Linked DNA regions of Homo sapiens. The protein of the gene in region 1 purifies or fractionates together with the protein of each later gene. This does not show direct contact. Each region holds a gene or a part of one and is shown on either strand. Other genes may lie near its edges.

Evidence for each region. Proteins that work in one complex are often made in the same cells at the same time.
Region 2: the proteins of DUSP4 (region 1) and NUP50 purify together in Homo sapiens (affinity purification with mass spectrometry, with the first as the bait; 2 studies listed by BioGRID). This does not show direct contact.

Annotation. Positions count from the first base shown.
Region 1 is NC_000008.11:29,340,666-29,347,692, reverse strand, and holds part of DUSP4 (dual specificity protein phosphatase 4), read left to right. Parts: intron 1-1,618; exon of another isoform or gene 1,619-2,163; coding exon of another isoform or gene 2,164-2,323; intron 2,324-7,027. UniProt on the Homo sapiens protein: Regulates mitogenic signal transduction by dephosphorylating both Thr and Tyr residues on MAP kinases ERK1 and ERK2.
Region 2 is NC_000022.11:45,180,899-45,187,925, reverse strand, and holds part of NUP50 (nuclear pore complex protein Nup50), read right to left. Parts: intron 6,641-7,027; coding exon 6,559-6,640; intron 4,525-6,558; coding exon 4,406-4,524; intron 3,474-4,405; coding exon 3,271-3,473; 3' UTR 1-3,270. UniProt on the Homo sapiens protein: Component of the nuclear pore complex that has a direct role in nuclear protein import. Actively displaces NLSs from importin-alpha, and facilitates disassembly of the importin-alpha:beta-cargo complex and importin recycling.

The sequences.
Region 1 (7,027 bases):
AGTCGGCCCCGACGCGGGCAGGGAGAATCATCTTCTGCATCTCAAAGTGGACATCCTTGCAGATGGAGGTGTGCAGGCCTGGGCCACAGATTTAGCTTCGGTCTCTTCTAGAATAGCCCCTCCTAGCCAGAAGTTCAGCTTCTGCTTCCAAAGGGAGCCTGCCCTTGGAAGCAAGCACCTAAAATTGAGAGGTGGGGGAATCTTCCAGCCTGCTCTGTTGTGGTGAACATCGTTGAGGTTAACTGGGCCCTATTCGGTTTAGCTTAGCTGATTTTGACATATGTGTTCAGCAGAGGCCATCTTTAACCCAGTTCCTCTTCTTCCTCTTTGCCCTCTAATGGAAAGGCATCCCTAGAGAGGTCAGAAGGAAAAAGTCAGTATCTGCTCCCACAGCTCTGCGGGAAGGGGCTGGGGAAGGAAATCAAGGTGTCTCCCAGGTCTCCAGATACACCTCCCTTCCATGCCTGGAAGCCAGTGCAGTGGAGCAAATGTGGTTTCCCGGGAGGGGGCTCTGGGGCAGAGACCTAAAGGGGAATTTTGAGAAGCAAAGGAAGAAAAAGCCCCTTAGATTATCTTTAGTAAATGCCTGAATTGGTGAAGGGTTGGAGAATTTGTTTCCTACTGGAGTAATTCATTTTATTTTCCAGCGAGGGAATGTATGTATGTCTCATTTCAGGTGTGCCTGTGCGTGTCTGTAAAGCAGGACAGGAAGCCAGTGGAAGGCTTGATGGTTGGTGTCTGCCATTCTTGGAGGGGTTAGGAGAAGCAGTAAAAGCAACAAGAGTATTTTCAGAAGTGATAGTAGCATGTCCAGCCAAAGCTATCTAATTCTATTAATTGCATTTTAAAATTCAGTTTTTCTATTTCTGCCACGTTGAAGGGTTACTTCAACCACGTTGAACTGGTTACTCCATGCAGGTGGCAGGAGGTAAACTTCGCTTAATATCAAGAAAGTACAGCCTAGCCTTTACATTTCCTCAGATTACCCGACTTTTGCTAAAAGCAATAACGAAAAATCTAATGTTTTCTATCTTTGCTAGTAAAGGATTTCCAGTGGGGTAATTTTTTTAAAACTCATTTAATTTAAAATCTTGTAAGGCATTTTTAGAGTCAGTTTGGAAATTTTAGTTTTTCAGATTTTATCACAATACACTTCTTGAAATCCCTTTCTCTCTCATTCGTAAATCCTTGGATTAGAGTTTGAGACTCCCCTGGTCATTAGAGAAAGACAAAAAGAGCTTTTTCTTACCCTATTCTTTGCCTTTATTAACCCCAAATAACAAAATAATCTGTTATGCAAAAAGATTGCAGGTATAAAAACATTACCTTCCTTTCCACCTACCTAAAACTTCCCTCAGCCTTTGTCAGTTCTAATTTAAAAGCTGTCCTGGAGCTGTTGGAGAAATGGGGAAGATCATCTAGATATTCCAGTTTCTCCTTCCACTCACCCTATAGTACCGGATAGCATCCAATAGCCCAGGGCCTGACCATACAGCCCATGATATTACCCTTTCTGTAGAAAACAGTCACTAAGGCCACTGATGAATGTGGGGGGAGAGGAACACAATTAACAGCTCTGGAAACTCTGGTGACATTTTTCTGTTTTTTCTCTCTCTAGCCCCACCATTGCTCTCTCTGTCTTCAGTTCCCCAGGAGGGCAATGGCATCAAACAGCACAGCTCTGGGGGATGTCAATATTGCATACCTTTTCTACCTAAAGGGAAAATGACTCGCTTTTCTGCTTGCAAATATGGTAGTTTCTGCTTACAAATGTAATACAATGCCCATGACAGCCAAGGACTGGAAGCATAAGTTGCTAGGTCTTACAGGTGATTTTTTACAATGAAGCAAACTCACTATGTTAGACACCATTTACATTGGATGTCTCCAACTAACAAAAGTAACTAAAGACAGATGTAGGTGTAAATTGAGAGTGAAATTTGACCCTTTAGACCGTCACAACTTCCTTGGGCTTATCCTGGGTGCTTATAGGAGAGGTGGGCTCCACCCACAAAAATGGACTGCTCAGAAAAATGAGGGAGAGAGAAAGGGTGGCCACTTTCCCGAGCCAAGAAATTCCTTGAAAAAAAATCAGAACATCTGAAACCAGAGAGCCGATTTCCTTACCGGGAGGCAGTTCCTGGCTAACGAAGAGGAAGCACGATGGGAAGAAAAGTTCACTCCAACGGAAGCCAGTTTGCTGAACATAGCAGATCGCCCAGGAGGACTGGGAGAGACTGCAAACCAGTTCGAGCCCCCAGCATGGCGTTAGGTGTCAGCCAGCTGGCAGGAAGGTCCAGGTGTCTGTGTTCAGAGTCTCAAGGTGAGAAGTTCACTTAGTTGGATTTTAAATACAGCTCAGCATTTACATAGGTGCTTACTAAGTCAACAGTCACATAAAGTAGAGTTCCCAAAGGCAAATGGCCTTCAAACAACCCCAGACTTTCTTGCAAGAGCATGACTTTTCTGGCAAGAGCAAGGCCATGAGCCCTGCCTGGGACCTGGCACTATTCTGAGTGTTGGGGGCATAATGGGGAAAAAGTGGCAGCCACATTAAGATTCATGACCAAGGCCGGGTGTGGTGGCTCACACCTGCAATCCTAGCACTTTGAGAGACTGAGGCAGGCAGATCACTTGAGGCCAGGACAACATGGCAAACTTGGTCTCTACAAAAAATGCAAAAATTAGCCGGGCGAGATGGCATGTGCCTGTAATCTCAGCTACTCAGGAGGCTGAAGCAAGGAGATTGCTTGAGCCCAGGGAAGTCAAGGCTACAGTGAGCCATAATCGTGCCACTGCACTGCAGCCTGGGTGAGAGAGTGACAGTGACAGACCCTGTCTGGGGAAAAAAAAAAAAAAAAGATCCATGACCATAGTCACCACCAAAGGACAGTCTTCCCCATCACAAATCCCAGTAACAGTCCTATTATGGTGATATTATCAATCTGCCCTTTGTAAAGTACTTTTACATACATTATCTCCTACTCCTGCAAGGGACGGGGGAGTGTGGTGGAGGGCTTCTAATGAGGGGTCCTCATTTCCACTAAACTTGGAAAATTGCCTCCCTGTATGAGGATGTGAGAAGGAGGAGGCACAGTGGAGTTGAACTGTAGATGGAGTTATTCTTAAGTAAGTCTGATGAAAATCACACTCCTTTTTTTCTTCCAGACTTTCAAATTGTAAAATAAAGGTGATAAAATGAGAGATTTAGGAATAGAAAATATATTCTTAAATAAGGACATGGGAAAAACAGGTTGAAATTAGTAAGAAACCTCTTATGGAATTACATTCAGTAGGACACAGACACGTTCAATACATTCATTTCATACATTCAAAGGGCATAGGAAAAACAGAATTCATTCATTCAGAATGGCACATTTGATAATGAAATTATTCAGGAGATAGAAATGCAGATTTTAGGCACCTGCTGCTTCAGAGCTGGCAAAACTGACACGCAAATAAGTAGATCCTGGATATTTAGAAGCAGAGGATATTGGAACTTAAAGATCATTATAATCAGAAATTCTTACATTTTGAGAGTGGGAAAAACCAGAGTTGAGGAGGGAACATACTTGTCCAAGTTCCACAAGTTGAGTTGGACTTACACCTGGATCTGTCTCCACTTCTCCTTGCACACCTGCTAGGGGCACGGGAAGGAGCCCAGCCCCTTTGTAGACAATGAGAATAAGCTTTCCCTTTCATGATTTTTTGGGATAAAACTAGGTGATCTAAATCTAGCTCTTGAAAGGGCTGTGGCTATGGTACTTGCATGGATTTGGGGATGGGTAGGAGGGACTGAGTGGAAGTCACCTTAGAATAATCTTTTTTAACCCTGCCCACAGTAAGAAACACATTTTAATTTATATTGTGACCCAGGAGAGGGATACATGCACATCTGAAGAAAAGTTCCATAAAATGATATCCTCTTTAAGGGCAGTGCATCCTCCTAATTCCTATTCTATTGTATTCCATTTTAAAAATGTGGGTCATGACTCTTTAATGACAGCCTGGATTAGGAAACCAATGGGTAGAAGCAGAGTTTGGTGAAATATCAGCAGTGCCCTATTTGGATCAGTTCTGTTTTTGCATGAAAAGTCTGTCTTCACTTGATGAAACCTGCAGGCAGTGCCCCCTGGAGAAGGGCCCACCAGGAAGGGGTGGAAGGCAGAGGTGGCATAGACTGACACCCAGAGATGACTTACTGGGGCATGGCCCTGTGGGGGGTGGACTTGAGCAGCTTCTTCCACCGATGGATAAATGCTAACTTGCATGCATCCTCCCGCATCACCTTCACTGTGTCCTCCGGGCTCCACCAGCCCAGAACATATCGTTCTCACCCATGAGTGCTGGCCTGAGTGCAGCCCAGGGCCCACCAAAAGGAACCCCCTTTAGTGTGGCATCTTGTGAAACCAGCCACAGACCCCCAAAAGCTGGCCACCACTGTCAGGGACGAGAACCTTCCAGTGTTTCTGCCCCTTGAGCGAATCTGCTTCTTCACCTTGTTCCTTTTTTTTTTTTTTTTTTTGAGATGGAGTCTCGCTCTGACGCCCAGGCTGGAATGCAGTGGCGCGATCTCGGCTCACTGCAACCTCCGCCTCCCAGGTTCACGCCATTCTCCTGCCTCAGCCTCCCGAGTAGCTGGGACTACAGACACCCGCCACCACGCCCGGCTAATTTTTTTGTATTTTTAGTAGAGACGGGGTTTCACCGTGTTAGCCAGGATGGTCTCGATCTCCTGACCTCGTGATCCACCCGCCTCGGCCTCCCAAAGTGCTGGGATTACAGGCGTGAGCCACCGCGCCCAGCTCACCTTGTTCATTTTTGCTTGTTCTTTAAAACTCCCTCAGAGGGAACTGACTTTTCTGTAATCATTTTTCTGCTGCCTTCTAATGGTGCCTTTTCCAGACAGTTGCGATGAGCCTGGGGGAGATGACGAATGGCCCTCTCAGGCCACATCTAGCCTGTTCCCCACCAAATGGGTCACTTGGGCCCTCCTTGCCCCCCACACCACTCCATGGCCAGCAGCCGGTGCCAGGTCCCTGACAAGGGTTCTGCTGAGTGGCAGCCATGGCCATGCCTGGGAGAGAAGATGGAGGTCTGGAGGTCTCCGGAAACCAAGAGACAGGTTTCCAGGAGAGCAGGCTGTCAAATGCCCAGTACCTTACCAGCATTACCCTGTCCCCGGTTCCTCTTTGGCCTTTGAGGATCTCTGCTGAGGGCATCCGAGGGCACCCCTCCATGTAGGCACCGAGAAGGGAAAACTTCATGATCTGTCTCCCTGATGCCAGGCACAGAGCCTGGCTGTCAGAACCAGTCCTCATAGGCCTTTGTGCAGGGGACTTTCATCACTTACAGACGAGGAGGAGGCTCCGAGAGGTTCAGGAGGCCCGGGCTGCACAGGTGATACATGCTCAGGGTGGGGTGCAACCTCATGGCAGAGCCTGTGCCCTTTCGGAACTTCACTCCAGTGCCCTGTTCCATACCCTCAGCAATGGAGACAACATCCTCTCAGCTGCTCTGGGCTCTTCCTGCTTCTCCAGCCCTGAGGGCCACTCTGCTCTGTGACCGTGGGGCCTGCCCTGGCACTCCTGGGCCACCCAACCATTCACTTTTGAGTGCAGGCGATAGCTTGTCTGTCTTGGTGGTGAGTTTTTGCAGGACACCACCTGTGTCTAACATGTTGTTTTAAAATGTGTTTTAATAGCTCAAATTATGTAATAGACAAAAGGATCATGTACTTAGAATTTTTTCAAATCCTAGAGAAGTATATAGAGTAACAAGTGATGGCTTGGGATACAAGTGATCAACCACTGTTAATGAATGAGTTTCCCTTCCACTTTCTCCGAAAGGGAGCATGGACTGAAGTTTCCCATCACAGAAGCCCCTGAAGGACTTCAGCTGCAGACAGATATTTCCTTCCTCTTCCCTCATCCTCTAATTACTGCATTTTGGGCAGCAGTGGTGGCAGCCGAATAAGGAAAGGGGTTTATGATGGGAGGGAGGGGGTGCTTCTGTGATGAAGTGGCTGCCGAGGCCACCAGCATGACCGAGGCTGACGGTACCAGCCCCACCAGCAGGTTTTCCATCCAGGGAGGCTGGTCACTGTGACTCAGCAGGAACAAGGGCCTGTGACCAGAGAGAGATCCATTTATATCCTGAGGGAGGGAGAGGAGGGGAATAGAGAAGCCTCCGGTCAGAGAGGAAAAAATGTACACCCTGTTTCTATAAGCCTCATGATGTGGTAGAGAACCGTTTCCTTCCTCTCAGTAGGAAGCAGTCTTTAGGGTTGGGATTTGGCGCAAGTGACTGACTCACCGTCACATGTCTGCACATTGGAAAATTTCTATCAATGGCCCTAGGGCACAGAGGTCCTATGTCACTGTCATGAAGACCGCAAAGGTAGCGACATCCAGGACTGTTGGCCAAATTGTCATTGGAGTCAGTTGAATGGGTTTGTTGGAATGGTGGTTCTCCAACGCACAGGCCCTACTGAATCAATTGAATCCATTTCTGGCCCTACAGACACTGTAAAATAAAAATAAAAGCAGGGCCATACATTGATAGCACTGTGGATTGGAAGTTGGCCGCAAAAGGAAGTCCCAGAGATCACAAGAAAGCCAGAGATAGGGCTTGAAAGGTTGTCTTTTTGGATGGCCTCCCTGTGGCCTCTCCCTGTATCCCACCTGCCTCCACCCCTCCTAGATAGGAGCACTCACCCTACCCCAGCTCAGCTGGCCATTTATCATCATCTTCTTTTTTTATTTAAAAGATCTCCCTTCTCTGGAAGATGATCCCACAGATAACCATTCCAGGGCTTACCCACTCTCAGGTCAGGAAATACTCCCTTGCCCCAAACCTGTACATAGCATGAGGGGTTTATTTAGATTTAAGCCCGTTTTCCTCTTGTTCTGGTCTCTTGGTGACGGAACAGCTATTCATGAGGACGTGCAATGGACATCTGTTCCATTGCTGAGATCCAGAAGAGTTTGTACCAGGGTCATTTTTTCCCTTCTTTCTCACATTGGAG
Region 2 (7,027 bases), on another chromosome or scaffold:
ATATTGTCTGACAATTCAAGTATTTTAGTTTTAGAAAACAATTTCCTATTTAAAGTAAAAAGCAAACAATTTATCCATCTGATTGCTAAGAAGTTTTACATCTCCATTACAATTGTGTCTGCATCAAACGGAGAGTCCTTCGTCCTCAGTATGATTGTTACTGGCTGAGAACATACGGTGACCTGTGTTCTGAGTGCCTGCTTGGAAAAGACCTCCCTGTCATCTGCCATACTACGGGACAAATCAGTATCTACTCAAATTCCCACTTCCAGAATGAGAGGACTCATCAGGGGTTTAGGAGTTTGCAAAGCCTTCAAAATGTATCGTGCTTGAATTTTGACTCTTCTGAAATAGAATAACTGACAAATGCTCAAAAAACAAACTTGTTTAACTTTTACTGAAAAGGCTCTCAGTGAAAACTTGTTTTGAACTCTACTAGTAAGGTAGAATATTAGTTTTTCTTCCCCTCCACACCAGAAAAGGCAGTTTTCTCTTTTTTTTTTTTTTGGCATGCAGCATATATAAAATGTGATCTAGAATTGAAATTGTAAAACAGAATAATCCTCTTAAAGAAAATCAGCCTATGAACAGTCAGACTTGTCCTTCCATGGAAAACATAATCTAAACTTCTTTAAAAACTGGCCATATTTTTTCAGTCTGTAATTCGAATAATGAAGATGGCATAACAAATTTTTTTGCTTACTAGGAATGCGCAAAAGGATGAGATGGATACACAGGTTTTAAAAAAAAAAAAAAAAAGGCCACTGGGATATTTAGTATTTGTCCAGATGCAAAACAATTTCAGAATAACAAAATACACACCTTGCTTTAGGCCACGTATATGATACACTTCATAGATTCTCAAACAAAAGATGAAAATTTCAGTCCACATTAAACATTTTAAAGCATAACTTCTAATATTTTGTTAAAAATAAGTCAAACTAAACGCATAAATCAGAATTACCTGTTAACATAGTGGGGAAAGTAGGGAAGCCCTCCAGGGGCCCCGTGCCCCAAGTAAAAGACAAGGAGTTAAATTTTACAATGAAATCCACGTATACTCAGGCTCTTTACACTAATAATCAAAGTGGAGACCAACCAGTTCCTAAAGCATAAAAGAGTGATTTTAAGAAAATATCACATTTTGAGTTACGGTATATTCATCACATTTTTCCCTGTAATTTTCACTTTAACAGTGATAGTCTTAGCAGCAAAAATTTGCTGGGAATGTTAGGAAAAAAGGAAGCCACACATACCTACTAATTTAAAAATATATAAACTATTTTTTACAGAAGGGCAGGTTTAAAAGAAAATCCAATCATGATCTTTTCATGCCATTTTTTGTCAACTTTCCATACACACGCAGACGCTAACAAAGTACTGTGTCATATACACTGAAGTGTCCTGAAGATGCCTGTGAGCTGCTGATTCCAGCTGGTACCAGGGAAGCATGTGTGGCTAAGTTGCAACAAACTTAAATTTGTTCCCCTTAGTTCTTCATCTTTTTAAAAGCTGAATAAACTTAATGTCAATCGGGTGGGGCCGGTATTAACAGCATCAACCGCTTGCTTACTATGAATCATCCGCAACAGAAACCCACGTGCATTCTCCATTCTTAAAAAGTCAGTGTAAAACTAACGGCCACTTCCTCCCTAGGTGCCTACTATCGCTATGTCTGACAGCATCTGTAACAGGACAAGCTCACCTCTCTCTACACGGATTCATCCAAAGCCACACACTAGGCCAAATTCTCCCAGTGGAATCAAAACACTGGAAGTAGAGCAAGAACCTCATGCCAACATTGGCCCAATCACACCTCAGTGACTTAGGAGTTCATCATATTTGATCATAAAATTGCTCCCGGCGCCAAACCTTACACCTAAAGACTGTAGTTTTAAAAAGCCACTGTACCGTCCACAATTATTCTGACCACTCTTTTCTAAATGGAGAATGTGCTACGCACTGAAGATCAGAACACACACGCGGGAGCCCTTGGGCACTGACCCTGAGCCTGTACACAAGATCAGCTGGTACTAGTCTCAAATGATTCATGAGGACTCAGTGGAAATTTAAACATTCAATTCTGTGTATCATTCATGTGCCCAGAGTCTTCAAAGAATGCTCGTGTTAGTTACCTGACACCTCTGGAGAAGTGACAGGGATATTCGTGTGAATAACCATGGCTCCCTTCCAGACAGACATATGGAATCTTACTCTTAAAAAAGTAAAGATATTTCAGATATCAAATGTATTATAATATACTGCGGTCTAAAGTTAAAGGCAAAGTTTACACACGATTTTCTCTTCCATGACTTTATTACATGTTTCCTAGTGAATTCACACGGCTCGTGTGTCAAAGCTCCCAGGCACGTCACTTGGTCACAGTTTTCATGTGCGTGGGGTTGATCATGGTACAAATGCCTATGCGCATCTTTTTCTCGGATGGTCTCATTTGACTTTCATTTCGTAAGGGTTCACTCTCCATGGTGTAGATGATAAGCTACCACATTTGTGCTTTTAAACCCATTCCTGGCAATCCCCCTTTATCTTCATTTTGTCTTTAGGGGGATAAAGAAGTAACACTACCTCATGAATAGAAACTATGAAGCCAAAAAACTCCTTCACAAGCTGTTCATTTCTTTTTAGAATGAAAATGCAGGTCCTGAATTCTCGTGAAGCAGCCCACAGGGTTACAGGCCAATGATTCGAACGCTGAGGTGAACACTTAGTACTCGCATTTGAGCTTCAAAGTAAAAATAAAGCAGAGGACAAACGCCTGTCACAGCGTGGCAGCCCGGTTCATTTGGTAACAGAACAAGTCTCACACGTCGGCTGAGCCCACCGGAGAGAAGCACACAGGCCAGCTTCCTTCTGAACACAGCCAGGCACCTGTTCAAAAGCCTCTCTCGTGGTGGCGGTGGACCCCAAAACCCACGGGTTGGAAGAGCCTTTGGGAAAGCAAATTGATACCCTGATTGCAGTCCTTGAAGAAATCACTTAGGGTTAGTTTAATAAACGAACATTAAAAAATCTTCCAAAAATTGCATTCAAATGTATTTTACACTTTAGGCAGTTCTTAAGAAGGGAGAGTGCAGTTTCTTGACACTTAACATTTAAAGGTTTTATTGGCCACATTAATCTTCCTCACAAAAGTTTTAAGTTATCTATAAGTTCTTAGAATGTCAAAGAAGAGAAGAAAAACTGACTAACTTTAAGGGGCGGTGGAAGCAGCAGCAACTTGGCAATAATTCTGCAGCCGACTTTGCGTGTTCAGGCATCCTTTTTCTCCAGTAAAATTTTGTGCAACTCGTCTGCATCCTCGCTGGTTTTTACCCGAATCAACATGGTGACTGGCATGGTGGCATTCTTCTCGTCAATTGGTGGATTTGGAACACAGACGATAAGAACGTTATTCTTCCCTGTTCGCGTACATGGCATATTGGGTGGAATCAGAACGTTCAGCAATATGTTGCCTGCATTCAAACAAACAAAACCCATCAAAATTATAGAAGCTATAGCTCCACCAAAGGAGTCTGTAATATGCTAAACATTAAATGCTGAAATAACTTAATACATCTAAGACAGGGAGCCAACAGGACAGCACAAAATCAGGACTGGTTCCCTGAGAACTGGGAGGCCTCGGGGAGCACTTGCCCTCACTGTGAGGAGTGGCCTTCCGTCCTCCCTCCAGCCCGGGTCTCTGCACCCACACAGCGTTTCTCTCAGAGCCAGCAGCCTCGCTCAGAACCGTCAGCCCTCTCAACACTGTCCGTCTTTGCACTGAAGGAAGAACACGGTGGCACAACCCAGTGTCTTCACTGCGCCACACGGACAAAGGACACCTCTGTCACAGGCCGGCACAGCTCCCTGGGCAAAAGTGACACGACCATGTTATTACTCCCTAGTCAAGCCCACGGGAAAGAAAAATGCCTCCCTGGAGTTTCTGCAACACAGCCCCCTGTTCTCTACCACTACTGCCCGCTCCACCGCAGGCCTGCCCCGTCTTCCTCCTCCTCCGGGCACTAGGATCCTTGCAGTGGACTCTTTTCAGGTTAAAACTGAGGATGGACAGCAAGCAGTTAGTCATTACTTGCTATATAAAAAGGATTCCTTTAAAAGGTTAATTTCCCTTGGGTGTTCATTAAATGGTCTAATCTCTAGCTTCTTAGTCACATTTCTAACACAAAGGAAAATGAAAAATCATTTTGTTTACAGCTTCTAACACATTTATGTTTCCTTACACACTATTATCCTGGGACTCAAAACTATAAATAAGTAAATACAGGATGAATTTGGCCTGAATGCGCTCTGTTTAAAAACATATTAATAACCTTGAGTCAGCAGGGTAAACGCTTTTATATACTATGTGATGATGATTTTGTGCTAACTGAAAAAAGGTACCCACCTAAATTGGTGTCTGCCCGCACCAAAAGCTGTGTCTTCTGATTTGCTGTAGGTTTTAAATGCAGAGTACCTATGCCTTTCTCTTTAAACTCATTGTCTTTCTTGTAAAACAGTTTACACCTATGGAGAAAAATAATAGGGACCATCAAGCATTCAAGGACGAATCAAGTCACACAGTTTTCTAACAACCACTCTTCACACTTGTGTGGAAAATCTCTATTAAATGAGTACAGGAAGCTTCAGGATAAATCTTTAATTGATCCAAACAGAGCCTGAGCAAAAACCAGAATAAGAAAATCTGCTTAGAGATTTTAAAACTCCTCCCCATTTTTTCAAATTAAACAGTGGGCCCCATGAAACTTTTTATAACACTTTCTGAAACTGTGTTCTCAAGTCAGTCAAAATCAGGGCTCAACACCAACCCCCCCCCCCCCCCGCCCCCAACCCCTGCCATTCTGCTCCTTTGGCCCTGAGCTCAAGATCGCCGATCTGGTCCTCTAAAGACAGGAACAAATAAAGGACAAAGACCCTGTCCTATCTCGCCCACCTCTCCCTCCTTTTTTTTTTGTGGCCTATTTCTTATTTTAAAAATTCTCCTCGACCAGGTGCGGTGGCTCACGCCTGTATCCCAGCACTTTGGGAGGCCGAGGCAGGCAGATCATGAGGTCAGGAGATTGAGACCATCCTGGCTAACACGGTGAAACCCCGTCTCTACTAAAAATACAAAAAATTAGCTGAGCGTGGTGGCGGGCACCTGTAGTCCCAGCTACTCGGGAGGCTGAGGCAGGAGAATGGCATGAACCTGGGAGGCGGAGCTTGCAGTGAGCCGAGATTGTGCCACTGCACTCCAGCCTGGGTGACAGAAAGAGACTCCGTCTCAAAAAAAAAAAAAAAAAAACAAACCTCAAGGCTCTTTCAGTTTTTGATTGCACAACATTTTTAAATAAATTTGGAAAACATTCTTGGGTAGGGTCTAACTAATAACAAAGTAATCAAATATCTTCCCAGCCTCCTGTGCTATGCATCTCCTGAGGTTATTAATACAAAACCATGGCTCATGTATTGATTTATGTATTTCTTTTGAGACAGTCTTACTCTGTGGCCCAGGCTGGAGTGCAGTGGCATGATCTTGGCTCACTGCAACCTCTGCTTCTCAGGGTTCAAGCAATTCTCATGCCTCAGCCTCCCAAACAGCTGGGATTACAGGCGTGCGCCACCACATTAGGCTAATTTTCATATTTTTAGTAGAGACGGGATTTCACCATGTTGGCCAGGTTTGTCTGGAACTCCTGACCTCAGGTGATCTGCCTGTCTCAGCCTCCCAAAGTGCTGGGATTACAGGCATGAGCCACCATGCCTGGCCTCATTTGATTCTAATTAAAAAAAAAAAAAATCTTAAAGTTGGGTCACTCCTTTATGTCATGTGAGTAATGAAATTTAAACACAGAAGAAATTGTTGGCCTCTTTTAAAAGTTCTTGAAACTAACACCTGGGAATCCCACAGGATGTGGTGACCTGTTCATGGAAAACTGCTGGCTCATTATTCGGAAATTTTTGCATTACAAAAACACATCTTTGAAAGCTTCTGAAATGGCACAGATGTTTTTTCAGCAAATATCTTTGTAAAAACTAATCTCATTTAATTGAAAGGAAGATGAAAGTTTTTATAAGTCCTCAACAGGAAGGGACGGTTACTGTGCTTAACTTTTTGACTATGAGAAAATCCAGAAAGGCCAACCAAGTCTCCAGGAAGGGATGAGAGATGCCTTCTGAGGCCAAACCTGAAATCACTGACTGACTCTGCGATTTCTTTGTTGGGGAGGAGGAAGGGGAGGGAGAAAGACACAGGGAGAGAAGACGGGATGGAATGGGATGGGATGGGATGGGGTTGGGAAGATCATGGAAGATCCTGTCTCTAAAGCACTTTAAAAGAGCTAAAGTGACAGAAAAGAGTGAGACCTGCCCACCAGGACATTTCTAGAACTGGATTTTTAAATAAACTGGCCAAGAATTCTTTCCTGTTCCACTTGAGAGCAGGCAAAGCTTGACCCCGAGACTGGAAGCTCAGTCAAGTGCCGTGAGGACATTCTCCAGCCTGAAGCATGCCACCATGCCTGCAAAACACATGCGCCAGCAGGTTGTGGGGATTCTTACTTTTTGGAGTAAAAAGCATCTTCTTCTTTTACTTCGGTAACTACTACTTTGGGTGGCTCATCATTCTCTTCTTCATCTCCACCTTTTATAAAAATGACAATAATTCAGTAAGATTCCAATCCAGAGCTTAAAGAAGTGACTGAAGTTTTGTTACGTAACACCCTAAACCTCCACCGGAGCACTCCATGTAAACTGACAGACTAAAATGCACACTTAATGGGGGGGGGGGGGGATGCCAGAAGGGAGTACCTGCAGGATTTTAACTATTTTGTGAAAAATAAGAATCCCTTTTAATGGGAACATACCTCTTAATTCTAAAATAACTTCCAATATATAGAAAACCTTAAAATGGAAAAATCTCCATGCTTATGACAGAAAAAAAAAATCAACACTCTATATGCAAATTACCCACTGGAAAATTCCATCTCGGATGAGTTTTTAACACCTTCACCCCTGAATATTCCTGTGA